Regions from separate parts of the Homo sapiens genome. Here region 1 is linked to region 2. Evidence: fine-mapped expression QTL. Tissue or cell type: whole blood. Region 2 holds a variant in brackets; the other region holds the start of a gene. All regions are shown on one strand. Distances are from middle to middle.

Region 1 (8,960 bases), 28 kb after region 2:
TATTATGACACAGTTATGTAAGAATAGACCCTATTTTTAAGTAACATATACTAGTTATATAGAGGTGAAATGATATAAGGCCTGGGACTCACAATCACACATGAAAAATAATAGGAAGAAGAGACATATGAAGCAGGTTTGGCAAAATCTCAATAATTATTCAATCTGGATGATGAAATATGAAGGTTCATTATACTATTCTCTCTACTTTTTGTATGCTTATTTTCAAGCTTTTCAAACAAATTAATACAAAATCATTCATGAAAGTCCATGAACCTGAACACATGAAAAATGAAGCTATTGAACAATGAAAAATGGATAAGCCCACATTATGTTTACATTTTAAAGCTTGTTTTTAATGGCAGCCTTTATCATCCACTGAACTATTTCATTTTGTTGTTTCTGATCTCATGACCATCCACTCATCAATACTTGAAGTGTGGGAAGAGCTACTAAACCCACACATAGTTTAATTTTTTTTAAATCCATCTGCAGAACTGCTTTATTAGCTAGATAAGAATATTTATTGAGCATTTATGTTGTGGGCATTGTATTAGTGCTGACCCAAGTTATCAGACACAGAGTAATTATTTCCATCTAAGGACAGATGCACAGACCATGGGATTCTGAACCTGGCGTGGTTGCTGCTCTGCCTCCTGAGAAGTCCAGGGTTACCTTACCTCACCTCTTAGACCTTCATACAACAAAGCCCGGCCAGAACTTATGTGGCAGGTGCACCTGCTGTGGCTCCCTGGCAGACACTGGAGCCACTAGAGGAAGTAAGCAGTGGCAGAGTACCAGGAAGGAGGTGGGGGGATGAGGTGTGTGGGTAATTTTCAGTATCTGTAAGCCCTCCCAGATTCTTCCTTCTGCAATTCAGAACCATCACAATGCATTTCCTATTTCCCATTCAGCCAGGGGCCCTCACATGCCAGAGCAGGCCCACCTGCTTCCCTGCATTTTGTATCTGTTCCATCACAGGTTTCATCAGACAAGTGACCACAGACAGACGAGACTAAGAGTTAAGACAACAGCCGGGCATCTGGCTCTTCATGCTTAAGGGTGTCCAGGGAAAACGGATGTACTACTAAAGTATCATGAGATAACACAGTTGGCAGCCTGTCACACGTGGGAATGGACACTCCTAGGTCACCATTAGTAGGCCATCCTCCGATGGGAAGGGCAGATATTCGGGGACTACTGCACATCAGCAGTGTTGTGTCTGCACCAGCACTCCTGGGCTCCATCTACACGGCTTATTAAACCAGTACCTGCAGCACTTTGGAAATCATGGCACACTGGTACACTTTATTTACTCTTCTTCTGCCTCAAATCCCTGATGACCACGGCAGGCCCCAGATAAAGGAACCAACTTCTGTGTGAGAACAGAAAAGATGCCAAAGAAGTTGCAGGCTTTATCCTTAACATGCACTGGCAAAACTCAGGAAGATGCAGGAAGCCACACAGAAGTTAGCTGGTTATGGAAGAGATGGCCAGGTTCTGGTCTATTCCCAACTCCTGCTCTACTCCTTACCTAATCGACTTCCCTAAAATAGAAAAATTAAATCCTTGTTTACTATGGATCAAACTGGAGTTGGAGAAATTTGGAGTTGGCAGAGCTAGCAATCGAGAGAAAATTCAAACTGAGCAAACTGGATATAGAAATCAGCGAAGCTTCATCTCCAATCTCCACAAACGTCATTCACGCAATTCTGTGTCTGCCCAGGAAGGGCATCGATCTGCCACCAAAATGATGCATCCGCCCCTGTGTTAAGGGGCCCGGCACTCTGCCCCGACAATCCCCCACAGGGCCCAGACAACCACTTCCAAGGCCCATCTTCTTGCACTGTTCCAACAAACACAAGTCACACCCACCCACAAACAAGCCCGTTTCAAGAAAACAAATGCCGGCGGCAACGCAAGGAGCTGCTAAAAGTTTCCAGCTGCCCTGCAGAGCTCGCTCCTGCTCAAACGTCGCTCCACTCCCGCACCATCCAGGTGAATCGGGTTGTAGTGCGTTTCCAAATACAGCAGGACCGGCGCTGGCTGTGAAAAAGTTAATCGAAAACTTCATCTTCCTCACACCCAGAGGCCTATTCTCTAAAGACGTTCTGCCACGGGAAGATTCGTTTTGGGCTGATGGCTTTGCTTACTTAGAACCCCCAAACGTCACAGGAATTTGCACCAATACTAAATTAGCGAGGGTTCCCATCATGCCCCCCAAGCCTTCCTAAAAGGCGGCCAAACTTCAGGATACCGGCTTGGAGGTGGGGGGCGCAGGAGAGGATGCCGAAGTCCTTCCCTCCTGGAGTTCAGCCAACTCAAAGGGTTAGCAGGGGCATCTCCCACCCTGAGCGCAGACTGGATGAGGAAGCCCCCACCTCAATTCCCCTGCGCCCCTCCAAAACATGGAAGGAGAGGGAGGCCGGGGGAGGGATACGGGGGAGGGATGCGGGGGAGGGGGGAGAGTGTAATTTCCCAGTTGACAGAAAGCAGGTAAATTGGGAGAGAGCGGGGTGAAAAGAGTGACAGGGCGACATCACTCTGCGGAAATTTCCCAGGAGGAAGGGGACAGCGATGGGGACAGGATCTTGGGTGGCGGGGAGGGGTCTGGGAGTTGCAGCCCCTCCAGGACCTTCTCTTCTCCCCTGTCCAACTCCCTCCCGCCGGCCCCACCTCTTGATTCCGCGGACCCAGCAGGGTCGGCCGCTCTGCCTCAGCCCTGCCGACTAAGAGGCGCCCGGCCCGGGGCCCGCAGCTGCCTGCGCCCCCGCCATCCTCCCCCGGCCCGCGGTCGTCCCGCACTCACCAGGAGCACGGAGCCGCGCACCACCTCAGACACGCTCTGCCGCAGCTCGGCCGCCGTGCCCGGCTTACTCAGCGCCCGGGTGAACTTCCGAGTCTCCGCCGAGGCGGGGAGCAGCGGCGGCTGCGACATCCTCCTGCCCCCGCCGCCTCCGCCTCCGCCTGCTCCCGCGGCCCGGCCCGGCCGCGCGGCCGCCAGGTGCGCCCTCGGCGCCCGGCCCGCTCCGCCCGCCGCTCCCGGCGCCGCCGCCGCCTGCTCCCCCCGCTGCTCGCCGCGAGTCCGGCCGCCGCAGCCCAGGCCGCGCCCTCTGCACCGTGTCACGCCCCAAGGCGCCCCCCTCGGCGTCCGCGGCCCCCCGCGATCGCAGCAGCGCCCGGGCTCGCTCCGGGCGACCGTGCGTGTGGCGGCGGCGGCTCCCCCATGCCACCAGCCTCCCTCGGCGACCACTCGCCGGGCCGCCTCCTCGGGGCGGGGTGTCCGGCGCGGCGCGGGCGGGGCGGGGCGCCCGGACGGCGGAGGAGGGGCCGCCGCGGCGGGACGGCGGGCCAGGCAGGTCGGCGCGGCCCGGCGCTGGAGCTAGGCGGCCGGACTGGCAGGGGCGGCGTGCCGCGCGGGACCCTCACTGGGGAAGGTGGGGGGTCGGGGCCGCCTCCGCCCCGGGCCGCACGTCCGAAGACCGGAGGAGGGGACTGCGCACGCCACCAAGAGGGCGCACAGCCGAGGCTGGACGATGCGCGGTTTCGGAGCAGGGTTTCCTGCCCAGGGAGCCCGGCTGCGCTCGAGGGGACCCCGAAGTCACCGGCAGGGTCGGAGCTCGGTGCACCACGCCCCCCCTCTGCGCCCGGGGCCTCTGCGGGGACAGAGGTCTCAGGAAAGTAGCCTTTATTTATGTGGCACCGATCGGAACCCGCGGCCGGCCAGGCGGACCTGGACGGAGCGTCCCTGCTCGGAACCTGGCGCGGGGCGCCGCGCGCTCGTGTGGCGCCTCGGCCTCCCCACCGTTCAGTCCCCGGAGGCACGGAGCTCGCGGCGGGACGATGACGGTTGGGCCGGGCCAGGCGTGGGAGACTCCCAGACTCCGGCCCGCCGGGACGGCCAGCTGCGTCACCTTGGACGTGGGCAATACTTCGGAGCCTCGGTTATGTCGCCTGTAACCTGAGGACAACGGCCTGGAAGGGGCTCAGGTGACACGGCGGCCCTCACTGGGGCCGATTTAGCCGGTCTGCCGCCCCTCCGCGCCGGACCGCCAGGCGGGGTACCAGGGAAACTGCGATGCGCCGGCTTGCGAGCCCACCGTGACGCAGAGCTGGCGGCCGCTAGCGACAGCCACCCTGTGAGGGACTTTCCCCCCAATACCCTAACCGCTTTCCTGTCCCTAAGGGCCCGCTCCCGCCCCGGCTCCGTTTCTGTCTCTCTGAGGAAGCCCGGCGCAGCCTAACCCTCACAGGGCCGCGGAGAGGGCGCGCCAGGCGGGGATTTGCGCCAGGCCCGCGGCGCATGCTCAGTGGTTGGGGACTGGGCGGGTACCCCGGGCGGGGAGCCTGACTGAACGGCGGCTCTGCTGATTGGTCGGGCTGCTCACGCCACGCCCGTTGCCTTCCGATGGACAGTTCCTTACCTGCCGGGTCGGCCTCCGCAGAGAGTGGTGGTCTTGAAAACCCAGTTTTGGGAGAATACCTGCCGCGCCTCCCGCCCAAATACCCAGAGGTTTCATAGCCGCCATCGCTGCGGTGGAGGAGGCCGCCTGTTGCGTCCCACCCCACCAGAAAGCCTAACACTGGCCTGAAGCGTAATCTTAAAGTGGTAGGGGAAAATACCGATCTAGCGCAGAGAGCAAAACACCTCCGTTCTGGGTTTAATGGGCAGGTCTGGAGGTGAGGTATGCCGTCCGCACTCAATAATTACTTGCAGGATCGGATTGTTTCTCCAGTGGGTGGGGACTGCAGGATGTAGCATTGAGTGAGCCTGGCAGATTGAAAGATAAAACAAGGGTGATGATAAAAACAATTACACACTAACCCATTTCCTCCTCCGTGAAATGAGGGAATGGCCCAGACATTTTCCAGACCTCTTCTGTCCTAAGAGTGGAGCTGGGTGACAGAGCAGGTGCAAGCCGGCCTTTCCCTGCCTCCCCGGGGAACGCACTCTGTTCGGTGAGAGCAACTCAGCTCGCATTGACTCCTTTCAGCTGCAGGAGTGTGGCCGTTCAGTTCTCATTTGAACTGTTGACAACAGTTGTCTTCTGAGAATCATGAGTTAGAGCCTCCCTTTAGGCTTCTGACTCCCTCAAAAGTACCAGACAACACAAACTTTTCCCCTCTTGTTACCTTGGCTCTCTAAGCTGTATCTACTTCTATACAAGGCGAACAATTTTGTCTTTTTAAATTAAAAACAACAACAAAAGCACCTAAGGTTGTAGGGTTTTATATTCTTTTTTCTTTTCTTTTTTTAAGAGCTATATGATTACAGTAGAGTGTGTGTGTGTGTGTGTGTGTGTGTGTGTGTGTGTAGTCTAAAGAACAAAATTTCAACAAATGGTTTTAAAGATCTAATTGGCTTCTATTAGCAATGCATGAACCAGGCAGCATTCTGACTACAAAATAGACGGGAGCTCTTGTGGGAATGGAAGAACAGCTGGGTTTTGTTAAGGTAACTTAAGCAGGAACAAGGGAAAAGCATAGTGCCGAAAGCACATCGGGTAACTTCAGGTTACTCTCCTTTATGGGTTAAAGCAGAGGGGGCTGCCTTAGCTGGCTCAGGCTGACTGGGCCCCGTTTGACTGGTTGCTGTGAATCTCCTGGTTTTTGGAAAACTGGCCCTTTTGGGGATTTTCCTGTTTTTTAAAATCTCTGTTTAGTTACGTGGCACCTAACACAGTGGCTTCATTTTAGTCTGGTCTGTTGGGGCCTAGTTCAGGAGCTCAGTCCAAGACAATGACCTACCATAAATTTTATTTAAATATATGTATATCTGGAAAGTGAAGAATTCCCCAAACCTACCAATTTTATCCATATCTCTACCACTCCTAAATTCTGTACTTACTTGCTGATTCAGTATATTCTAGAATTGGCAGATTTTCATTTAGGAAGCAGAGAACAACAGACAATGTGCCAACAGTAGTCACTGGCAATGTCTAACCAAGCACAGGTTCTGACAGACAAGGCGGCATGGAAACGTGAACTAAGCCCAGGAAGATGGACCCAGCAACCCAGAGTGGAGCCTCTTCTTCCTGGTGAAGTGCTGTTGATAACAAATGGGACATTCCTAGTGTTAAAGTTTCAGCAGAAACTTGGTCCCTACTGTTCTGGGTTGAATTGTAGTCCCCCAAAAGATATATTGAAGTTCCAAACCCAGTACCTGTGAATGTGGCCTTATTGGAAATAGGTCTTTGCACATGTAACCAACTTAAGGTGAGGTCCTACTGGAATAGGTGGGCCCTAATTCAGTATGAATGGTTGTTTGTTTGTTTGTTTGTTTGTTTGTTTTGACAGAGCCTCACTCTGTTGCCCAGGCTGGAGTGCTGTGGTGCAGTCTCAGCTCACTGCAGCCTCTGCCTCCCAGGAGGCTGGGATTACAGGCACCTGTCACCACACCTGGCTAATTTTTTGTATTTTTAGTAGAGAAGGGGTTTTGCCATGTTGGCCAGGCTGAGGTCAGGTCGAACTCCTGACCTCAGGTGATCCGCCCATCTCAGCCTCCCAAGGTGCTGGGATTACAGGCGTGAGCCACCACGCCCAGCCTGAATGGTGTCTTTATAAGAAGAGACACAAATACATACACAAAGGAAAAATACTATGTGACAACAAAGGTAGGAAGGAGAATACTGCACACCTGCAAGCCACAGAACAGCAAGGATCACTGGGAACCACCAGAAACTGGAAGAGGCAAGGAAGGATTCTTCCCTAAAGTCATCAGAGGGAGCATGGCCTGCTGACACCTTGACTTCAGAATTCTAGCCTCTAGAACAGTGACAGAAGAAATTCTGTTGTTTTAAGTTTGTGGAACTTTTACAGCAGTCCTGGGAAACCAACATGCTGGCCAAAGGCTATTTTTAAAATTTCCACCAGAGTGGGCCTGGAATTGTGTGAATTCTTTTGGCATCACTATTTCCTGGAGAGCAGTCATACCTACAGAGGGGCAGAGCATCAGCCCAAAAGAGGGTGCTACCTGGCTACCTGGGATGAGGCTGACCTCTGGCTGGACTGGGTGGATGGTGTCTCAGGTACGGTAGAAGATACATCCACCTACATTAGCTTGATGGAGTAACCTCATCTTTGTTTTTCCAAACTATAGGAAGAAAGCTTTTCTTTCTGTTGAAAATTATACTAGTAGGTAGTGGAGATGAAATATAATTGCAGCCAGTTCTGAAATTTGCATGTAAATGACTGTACTACACCCAAATTTATAATTCAAGCATTACTCATGTTTAATGATAACCTCTTACTACATCATTTCCTTGTTAAGTTTGCTTTAGGATTTGTATGTGTCTTAATAACATATAATTAGTTTAAAATCTTTTCTGGATATATCTTGAAAGAGTATATCTGTTTTTAGCAAAAATAACAAGTGACCCATAAAAAGGAGGCACTCCTGTGCACTGTCACAGGGAAGTGTGAAAGGGGACTTTCGTTCTTTATTTTATCCTTGCACTGATTGAATTTTATTTATTTATTTATTTTGAGACAGATTATTGCTCTGTTGTCCAGGAAGGAGAGCAGTGGTGCCATCATAGCTCGCTGCAGCCTTGAACTCCTGGGCTCAAGCAATCCTCCCACCTCACCCTGCCAAGTAGCTCAGAGGACAGGTGCATGCCACCACGCCCACCTAATTTTTTTTACTATTTGTTGATACAGGGTCTCACTATGTTGCCCAGGCTGGTATCAAACTTCTGAGCTCAAGTGATCCTCCTACCTTGACCTCCCAAAGTTCTGGGATTATAGGTGTAAGCCACCGTGCCCGGCCTGACTGAATTTTTTTAATGAACATTCACTACCTTTATACTTCATTTATTAGGTTGGTGCAAAAGTAATTGCATCTTTTATTTCAGTGGCAAAAACTGCAATTACTTTTGCACCAACCTAAAAACTTTTTTTTTTTTTACAAATTTGTTTTTTGAAATTAATCAACTCATGCTTAGAAGTAGGCTCTTGTTTATTCCGCTAGGTAACATAAGTAGAAAACACATCTCTTCAAGACAGAGCATCTGGGAAAGGTATTACAATTAATCTAACACATGTTTCCAGATACCACTTAGGGTTCATGTTACTGGAAGAATGTAATCCCCTCTTTCACTTCTGTTTTACTTAGGAGACATTCTTAGAGGAAATGGAATATGAGGTCTTTAAGAGATAGCTGAGACGAGGGCATGTCGCATTTTATTATGTGTATAAGTCACCTGTGGATCTTGTTAAAATGCAATTCTGATTGAGATGGTCAGCTGTGGTGCCCAAGAGCCTACAGGGCTAACAAATTCCAGGTGATGTCAAGCTCCTAAATCAGATGCTGCTCACCTACAGACCACGCCTGGAGTAGCAGACAGTTTGACTTCACTGCAGGCTCTTGAAGATTCTCCAGCTGACTCAAAATTTAAGCAGGAAGGCGGCCAAACAATAGGAAAACGGGCAAAACTCATGACCAAACAATTCACAGAAAAGATATAAAATGGCTGGTAAACATATGAAAAGGTGTTTGACCTCATTTATGATGTAAGAAATGCAAATGAAAACTACACTGATATACAATTTCTCACCAAATTGGAAAAATTATAAGGTATCACACTTTATGTGGAAAGGCTATTGGGAAACAGGCACTGTCACACATTGCTGGTAGAGATGCAAGGTGACACAACTGCTATGCAGTAGAATATGGCAATATCTGACAACACAATGTATGCATTTGCCGTTTGTGCCAGCAATCCCACTACTAGGAATTTTCTGTGAAAATACACCTTAAAAAAAGGAAAATATTATGCACCAAGTTATTCATTGAAGCATTATTTATAATGGCAAAATATTGGAAAATATCTAAATACCCAAATATTGGAGATAGAGCCAATGTGGTACATGCACACAAAGATATTATTCAACTGAGAAAATGAATGAGAAAGATACCTATTAATATATGTGAAATGATTGTCAGGATATGTTGTTTTAAA
Region 2 (8,000 bases):
GGGGGCATCGCACCTAAGAGAAAGCGAGCCGGTGCTTAACTGTGGAGGGGACCGCAATGGGAGAAATTAGAAGAGAGGAGCAGCCAGGCGCACAGGGTCAGTTGTGCAGGGCAGAGCAGGAAGAGAGGCATATGGAATGTGGATTGGGATTTTAATGGAAAACTATATGCAGTTCTTTGTGGCCTAAGCTGTATTACTCAATTACATTGATAATATTGACTACATTGATATTATTAATAAGTTATACTATTACCATAATATTGCACACAGTTGTCAACTGTTCTCTAGGTTCCTAACAGCTGTGCCTAATAAGCCTGTACAGCCTTTCTCCAGCCTTAAATGAAGACAGACACTAGATACAGGCTAAGACAGCTTTTAACATATACTAGCTGTCTGCAGTGACTAGACCCAGGATCTGAGGCCTATGATAAATTCCTAGGCCAAAGAATCTGGGATTTTTTTCAGAAATCAGCCAAGCTTTCCAAAAGCACTGTCAGGACCAAATATCAGCTGCACTAAGCATCACAGGGACGTGGAATGGTAACAACAAAAGTGCCTTTGTAGCTGAATGAAACAGAACCTGGTCTGGTTACTGTATTCTATACCAAAGCCTTTGAAGATGACAAATTTAAATTCCACAAGGTCTTTCCAGTTTAGTGAACATAGAGAGTTTCCCTGGAAATATATATTTTTTTCCTGTAAACGGAGTGCCAAATGTTTTGATCATTTTTAGAATATATATGTAAAAAATACTTTTGAAAGTGCAATTGTGAGATGTTTCACCATACAAACTAATAACAGGCAATTCAGCTTCCCTGGCTATCCAATCATTGCTTGTTTGACATTGTTTGGGCACATTAAATGGTACTGATAAAGTTGTTTGAGAGTTTGTCTTTTAAAGCAACAAATCTTACTGGAAAACATTATCAAAGTAAGGTTACATACTAAATATGCAAAAGTATTATAAAGATACATTAATATCTTTAAAAAAGATAAGTAATATTAGTTTATACATTAACTGAGGGGAAAAAAGATATTATGTCTGTAATGATTCAACTAGGTGTGGCCCAGACTTGGCTAAAAAACCAGCTCCCAGTCACCCAGAGCAAAGAAATGAGCAACCTAGAAGTCATTTCTGGATGGATTTATGTTTGGGGGCAACAAACTCCTCCCCCACCAATTCTATTTTCTCAGCTAAAATAAATTTAATGGAGAGTACACCTGCTGGGGTGGCTGCCCGGCACCTCCCTTTCCCTGTAACGTGTTGTTTTTCTGAGATGTCCTCTTTCCCTTCCCCCAGTGGCAATCAGGGTCATTCATGCCAGGTCTGATGCAAGGCCCCCCAGGACAGGCCTTCCCTGGAGGCCAAGGAGCAGCTCCTCGCCCTGAGGAAAGACAGTGGCCCTGAGGAGCCATGCGTACAGCAGCGGGGATCCGAGAAGCCACATTCCTACAGATGACCCCATGACTTGGTATCGGACCCAATGTGGATCACCTCCCTGGGGGATTAGAGCAGCCTGAGAGAAGGACCAGTTTCTTGCCAAGTAGCTGGTCTCTCAGACAGCGAATTCCTACCATGTAGACTAGAAGCAAAGAAAGTCAATCTCCAGGCAGAGGACCCAAAAACTCTAGAGAGCAGCCGAGATAAGAGAGGATCTTGAAGGCTGGGACCCCCTCAATACACTCAGCTGGACCCCCACCCTTTAGTTCTTGGAGACATACTGTGTCCTTACAACATATATCCCTTTTTTCCTTTAATTACTTGGAATGAGTTTCTGTCACTTGCAACCAAGAGTCCAAATTAACACATCTAATTCCTAGCATACAGACAAGAAAAAATAAGTAGTAGTCTCAAAATGTTACGAGTTGACATATTGGGCCTGAAATCTTACAGCACAAAACAGGTAACCACTGAATAGGGGGAAAATGGTATTCTTAAATCTTAATTTTGAGACAATTACCCTGCCACTAAGGCACGGTAAGTCCTGGGTGAGCTGAGGACCAGATCTTCATTGCGCCTCTGATTTCTTTACTAAGCCACTGACTCAGGGACAACCTTGCATTTGGAGGATTTCCACATCTTGCTGTTGTGCAATATTTCCCAAATAAAAGAATAATATTTAACACCTAAAGGTTTCCATAACACTGATTTGCTGCTTTAAAAAAGAAAAAGCAAATGCAACTTATAAAGATTAAAAATACAAATTATAAATTTACAAGTGGAACAGCTTCAAAGCTGTTTGAAACAATAACAATCCCTTCCTTAAAGAAAAGCAATTTCAAAAGCATAGATAAGCAATCCAGGAGTGCCACACCAGCTTACAACACAGAGATCAGCAGGCACTCGCCTTGGACAGTAAACTAATTGACACACATTTAACTGAGTTTGAACATACTGTCATTCCCATTTATTTTTCTTATACTGATAATACACTGTAATAATACACTGTAATTCTGTTATGTTGAAAACTGATTGTATACTGATTGAGACCTAGATTTACAATCCTAGAATAATTACATAACTTTTATTAGACAATATTTCAAAAGGCAAAAGACGGCCAAAACAGAGGGGGAAGGGTATTTATACAATATCTCTCTCAAACTGTACATGACCAACAAACCAAGAAAAATATGAAATGTCCCAACTTCAAAAACACCCAGGCCTGGGTGGGGTGATTCTGACCCACAGTGTACTAACAGTACTTGATATCTTTTTTTTTTTTTTTTGAGATGGAGTCTCACTCTGTCACCCAGGCTGGAGTGCAGCAGCACCATCTCAGCTCACTGCAACCTCCGCCACCCAGGTTCAAGTGATTCTCCTGCCTCGGCCTCCTGAATAGCTAGGATTACAGGCATGCGTCACCACACCCAGCCAATTTTTGTATTTTTAGTAGAGGTGTTTCACCATGTTGGCCAGCCTGGTCTTGAACTCCTGACCTCAAGTGATCCGCCCACCTCGGCCTCCCCAAGTGCTGGGATTATGGGCATGAGCCACTGCACCTGGCCAAGAGTACTTGATATCTTGATACAAACAGTGCCAGGGGCCACAGAGCACAGTGAAGAACCAGATGAGACATCTGCTTGTGTCAGCAGGTCCCAGGACCCCCTGCCCTAATGCTGCACCTCTTCCCTCATCCTGCTCTATGTGCCCCATAGAGCCAGGGCCATTTACCAAGGGTTCCCCCCATCCACCCTCACCCAGTGGAGGCCTGGAAGCACCTGGTATGCTCAAATAAGGCCACACTGTAGAAGGTAACAGAGCCAAGGAAGGCAGGCTGGGTCATGCTGCCCTTCAAGCACTGCAAGGACTCCACCCCCTAAAGCACTCATAGGGCACATGTAGCAGCCACACACGAGCCCTGCTTTGGGGACATCTCTGCAGCACCCATGGCCCTTACCAAAGCCATCACTTCACTGGTGAATCCAGTGCAAACTCTGCATGTACACCCCACTTCACCTCTCAGAAGGTTGTGGCACCCCAGGAAGCCTCCTGGCTTTGGAAACACACTTCCCTTGGCTTCCCTGACACCTGACCTCCTGGAGGCTTCTTATCTCTCTGGCCTTGGCCCAGTCTCCTGTGAGGTCCTCTCTCCACTACCCGTCCTGTAAATGGTGAGGGACCCACTCCTCATCTCCTCTACACACTCACCACTAGAAATCACACCCACGACTGTGGCTTCAAGGC[G/A]GGCCATGGTAAATACACCATGACCAGAGATCCTGGCTCAAATGTCTGCAGTCGAGTCCAAGAATTTGCATTTTTAGCAAGCCCCCTGAGATGCTGGGTTCCTGAGCTCTGTATCAGCTGCCTACTCAACACCTCAATGGGCCTGTTCCAGGGACATCTCCACGGGTCCAGCTGTGGCATGCCGAGGTCATCTTTCTTCCCTCACCTGCTTGTTCTTCCACCCATGGATCAGCTGGGCATACAGGCATCATCCTTGATTCCTCTCCCCTCCCTCCTACATCTAATCAATTACCCAACCCCACTGAGTTTTAGATTTTGGACCTGTCTACTTCCTATCATTCCCGCAGCTATTTCCCAATGTTCCTCATCTGTATTATTCTAACAGTCCCTTCCAAGCCAACTCTTCACTGCAGCCAGAATGATCTTCCCAAAATACAAATGCAACCACATCACTGTCCTGTTTAAAATCCTTCAGAGGCTCTCAACCAACCTCAGGACAAAATACAAACTTGTGTTTTTAATAAAGTTTTGTGATATAATTCACATACCACAAAACTCATCCAAAGCATACAATTCAGTCATTTTACTATATATCCACAAAGTCATGCAATCATCATAACAATCTAATTTTCACCACTCCAAAAGAAAGCTCACACCATCAGCAGTCACTCTCCATGCCCCTCCCTCCAGTCCCTGGCAACCACTCATCTACTTTCTGTCTCTATGCTATTCTGGACATCGCGTATAAATGGAATGCAACAATATGTGGCCTTTTACGTCTGGCTTCTTCCACTTCACATAATGTTATCAAGATTCATCCATACTGTGGCATGTGTCAGTACTCCACTCCTTTGAATGGCTGAATAATATTCTATTGGGTGGATATACTACACATCAGTTACAGACATTTGATTGTTTCTACTTTTTTTTTTTTTTTTTTTTTTTTTTTTTGAGATGGAGTCTTACTCTGTCTCCCAGGCTGGACTGCAGTGGCATGATCTCGGCTCACTGCAAACTCCGCCTCCAGGGTTCACGCCATTCTCCTGCCTCAGCCTCCTGAGTAGCTGGGACTACAGGCACCCGTCACCGCACCCAGCTAAATTTTTTTGTATTTTTTTAGTAGAGACGGGGTTTCACCGTGTTAGCCAGGATGGTCTCGATCTCCTGACCTCATGATCCACCTGCCTCGGCCTCCCAAAGTGCTGGGATTACAGGCGTGAGCCACTGCGCCTGGCCCGATTATTTCTACTTTTTGGCTATTATCCATAATACTACTAAGAACACACAAGTACACATTTTTATGTGAACATATTTTCAATTCTTTTGGATATATAACTAGGAGTGGAACTGCTGGGTCATAGAACTAGGTCAAATAACTCTATATTTAACTTTCTGAAGAAACGCCAAACTGTTTTCCAAGTGCCTGCACCATTTAACACCAGCAATGTATGACGGTTCAAATCTCTCCACGTCCTTACCAACATAACAATAACAGACATGGTATCTTATAATATCTGTCTTTATAAGATGTCACTCCTTGGGTCTAGAGCAGGTACCTTTCTCATATCATCACAGGGCACCCCACACATCTGCAGTATCCTGTCTAGGGTATCTTTGGGTCCCTGATCCCACTATACTGGAACTGTCTGATCAGCTACTTAGGTCCTGACCAGACTGTAAGGTCTGCAAGGTCAGGGGCTGAGTCTGTCCCATTTACAGCTCTATCCTCAGGGTCTGGCAGAGTGGCTGGTGTGTAACAATACTCAGTGAATGCATGTTAAATAAATAAGTTACCAAAATCAACAGATTATCCAGTCTGAGCCTTCACTTTCCCTTTACATGTTAATCCTACATTACCTGTAATAAAATAACTAGTGGATTTGACAGTAAATATGTTTTCACAGATACAAAAAAGCCCAAGGCAGTTTAATCCCTTGCCTTTTAAGGATCTCTCATCTTTATAAGCTAAAGCTGACTGAAAGTATACTCTACTGACAGCTGCTCTATAAATGTTTACTGAGATAAAACAGTGAGCCCAAGCTGTTTCATTCCATAGAACACCTAAGCATTTGTCAATATGGCAAGACACTGAGGGGAACAGGAGGGTCAAAAAGACAATGAAGGATGTCAAGGACTGCTGTACACTTTCTCCTCCCCCAAAAAAACATTTTATTTTACTTTTCTGCATCTTTTAAAAAATATTATCTCCCTTATAGCCAAGATTCTCAAAGAGTCACACACACAACACTCCCTCACTGATAGAAATCTGCCTGTCTTAGAGACCCTCCTTGCCTAGCACTCCCTCGCCTTGACTAACAAGATGGGAGATGCACTGAATTAACTGGTCTTGCAACTTGCCATTACAGTTTTCTAGTGCCAAGCAAATCTGGAATGATCAGGTCTAGACCCATGGCAGACTGGGGAAGCCAGCGTCAAAGGGTATAAAGTCACAACAGAAGGTGTAGTATCAAAGTGAGGCAGCCTCACAGGAAGGGGAGCTCACTGGGGGCCTGAGTATCCCAGTGAGGTTTCCCTGGCCCTCTCCCCACCCCCACTGCTCCCAGGCGACCTTCCTTTTCCTTCTCACCACATCACTCTCATTTTCCACCTCCATGCCTTTCTATCCCATTCCGGTACTGTTTGGTTGTCTGTAAATGTTTTCTAATTTTCCTATAATAAACATGTATTGCTCATGTAATAAGAGAGGAAAAAGCTTTTTGTTTTTTGTTTTTGGTTTTGTTTTTTTTTTGAGACACGGTCTCACTCTGCTGCCCAGACTGAAGTACAATGGCGCCATCACAGCTCACCGCAGCCTCTAACTCCTAAGCTCAAGTGATCCTCCCACCTCAACCTCCCAATTAGCTGGAATCACAGTCACATGCCACCATGCCTGGCTAATTTTTTTATGTTTTGTAGAGACGGGCTCTCGCTATGTTGCTTAGGCTGGTCTCGAACTCCTGAGCCCAAGTGGTCCTCCCACCTTGGTCTCTGAAAATGCTGGAATTGCAGGCATGAGCCACCATGCCCATCCCTAGTTCATTGTAAAATGTACCAAAGAAAGGTCCCCTAAGAGCATCTGACAAGCCAACTTCTTATAAATCTAACTCAGTAGGAATTGTGCCATCTTTAAGTGATTTTAAACTTAAAAATAAATAAAACTTGTATAAAGTTTACATTTACTTTTACAGTTCATTGCCCCCTCCCAAGCAAACTTCGAATGACCTCATGGGAAACCAACCAACCAAAAAACCCACCAATCTATTTCGTTTTTCTAATTTGTCATGTGTTATAGATCTCTGGTCTGACAAGTTTTTAAATCACAAAACATACACTTATGACCTCCTTGATAAGCACCATAAATAAGAGGAAAACCATTTGGATGTGGCCTGCAAAGTAACCAATTTCCTTCTCATCTCCTGGCTTTTCTTAAAGACACGGAAAGAATGAGGGGCACTTGTCTGCATTCGCTCCCGCAAGCCTTCTACAACAGGATATCGCCATCCGCTGCCTGCTTTTCTGCTTTTTGTTCACTGCTCGTAACAGGAAAACTTGCTTTCCTGCTTTCTCAATACCAAATGGGTTACTCCTGCGAGGGAAAACATCCCTTCAGAATCCACCCCAGGGCTCCACAGAAGGCAAGAGAAACAAAAGCTGCACCATTCTCTCCCCAAATATTCCATTGGCAGGCAGCCCAGGACCGCGCCAGTTCAGTGGTTTAATATCCTGTCTCTTTGGCAGAAAAGGGAGAAAGAATTATGGAGCTGCCAGCCCAGGGTCCCCGAATCTACTCTCTACTACTCTGCGGGTGTTACCATTTGCTGGGCATCCATCATGACACCATCTTTTGAAGAAAGACAAACCAGCCACTGTCAGATAAGGGACCGAATTAGGAAAAGACCCATGTGAAGGTTCACGACTCAGAATACAAGAGGTCCAGGAAAGCCAGCAACAGAAAGAATCACTCTCTATGTCAGAATATTAGAGAAGGATTTAAGAAACAAAAGAAAAGAACCAACAGGAAGGCTTGTGCAGTAAGTCTAGACAGAGGCAAGGTAGAAAAGAACAGGGACAAACGAACGATGAAAAGCAAGCCTGGGTCATACTGAAAGATGTCGTGCTCTATTCATGGCTAGTGAGCCAAAATGACACTGCTGGTGACAGCCCTACGGCCCTACCCAGACTGTGGGGAACCCTTCCCAGCCTAGAAGGCCTCACCGAGCAGAGAATACACACATTCCTACCAAATGCTGGGGCTAGGCCTCACCTGGGTGTGGGTACCCAGGTGTCCAAACACCTTCCTCCACCCTGCGACTCC

The links.
Region 1: DOCK9-DT starts here. The variant in region 2 is fine-mapped to the expression of DOCK9-DT in whole blood (TOPMed, PIP 0.98).

The regions. Positions count from the first base shown.
Region 1 is chr13:99,083,414-99,092,373 of GRCh38, forward strand. DOCK9-DT (DOCK9 divergent transcript) reads left to right here and starts at 3,310. Exons shown (of 1, transcript NR_047482.1): 1 at 3,310-5,212. It also overlaps a transcript of DOCK9 not described here. RefSeq lists silencers at 2,642-3,121, 3,162-3,471, 3,562-3,621, 4,202-4,431 and enhancers at 3,312-3,873, 4,436-4,995.
Region 2 is chr13:99,055,456-99,063,455 of GRCh38, forward strand. It overlaps a transcript of DOCK9 not described here. Among named protein-coding and RNA genes, the nearest start is that of DOCK9-DT, 27 kb to the right of the region's middle. The variant G/A (reference allele first, on the strand shown) is at 3,686.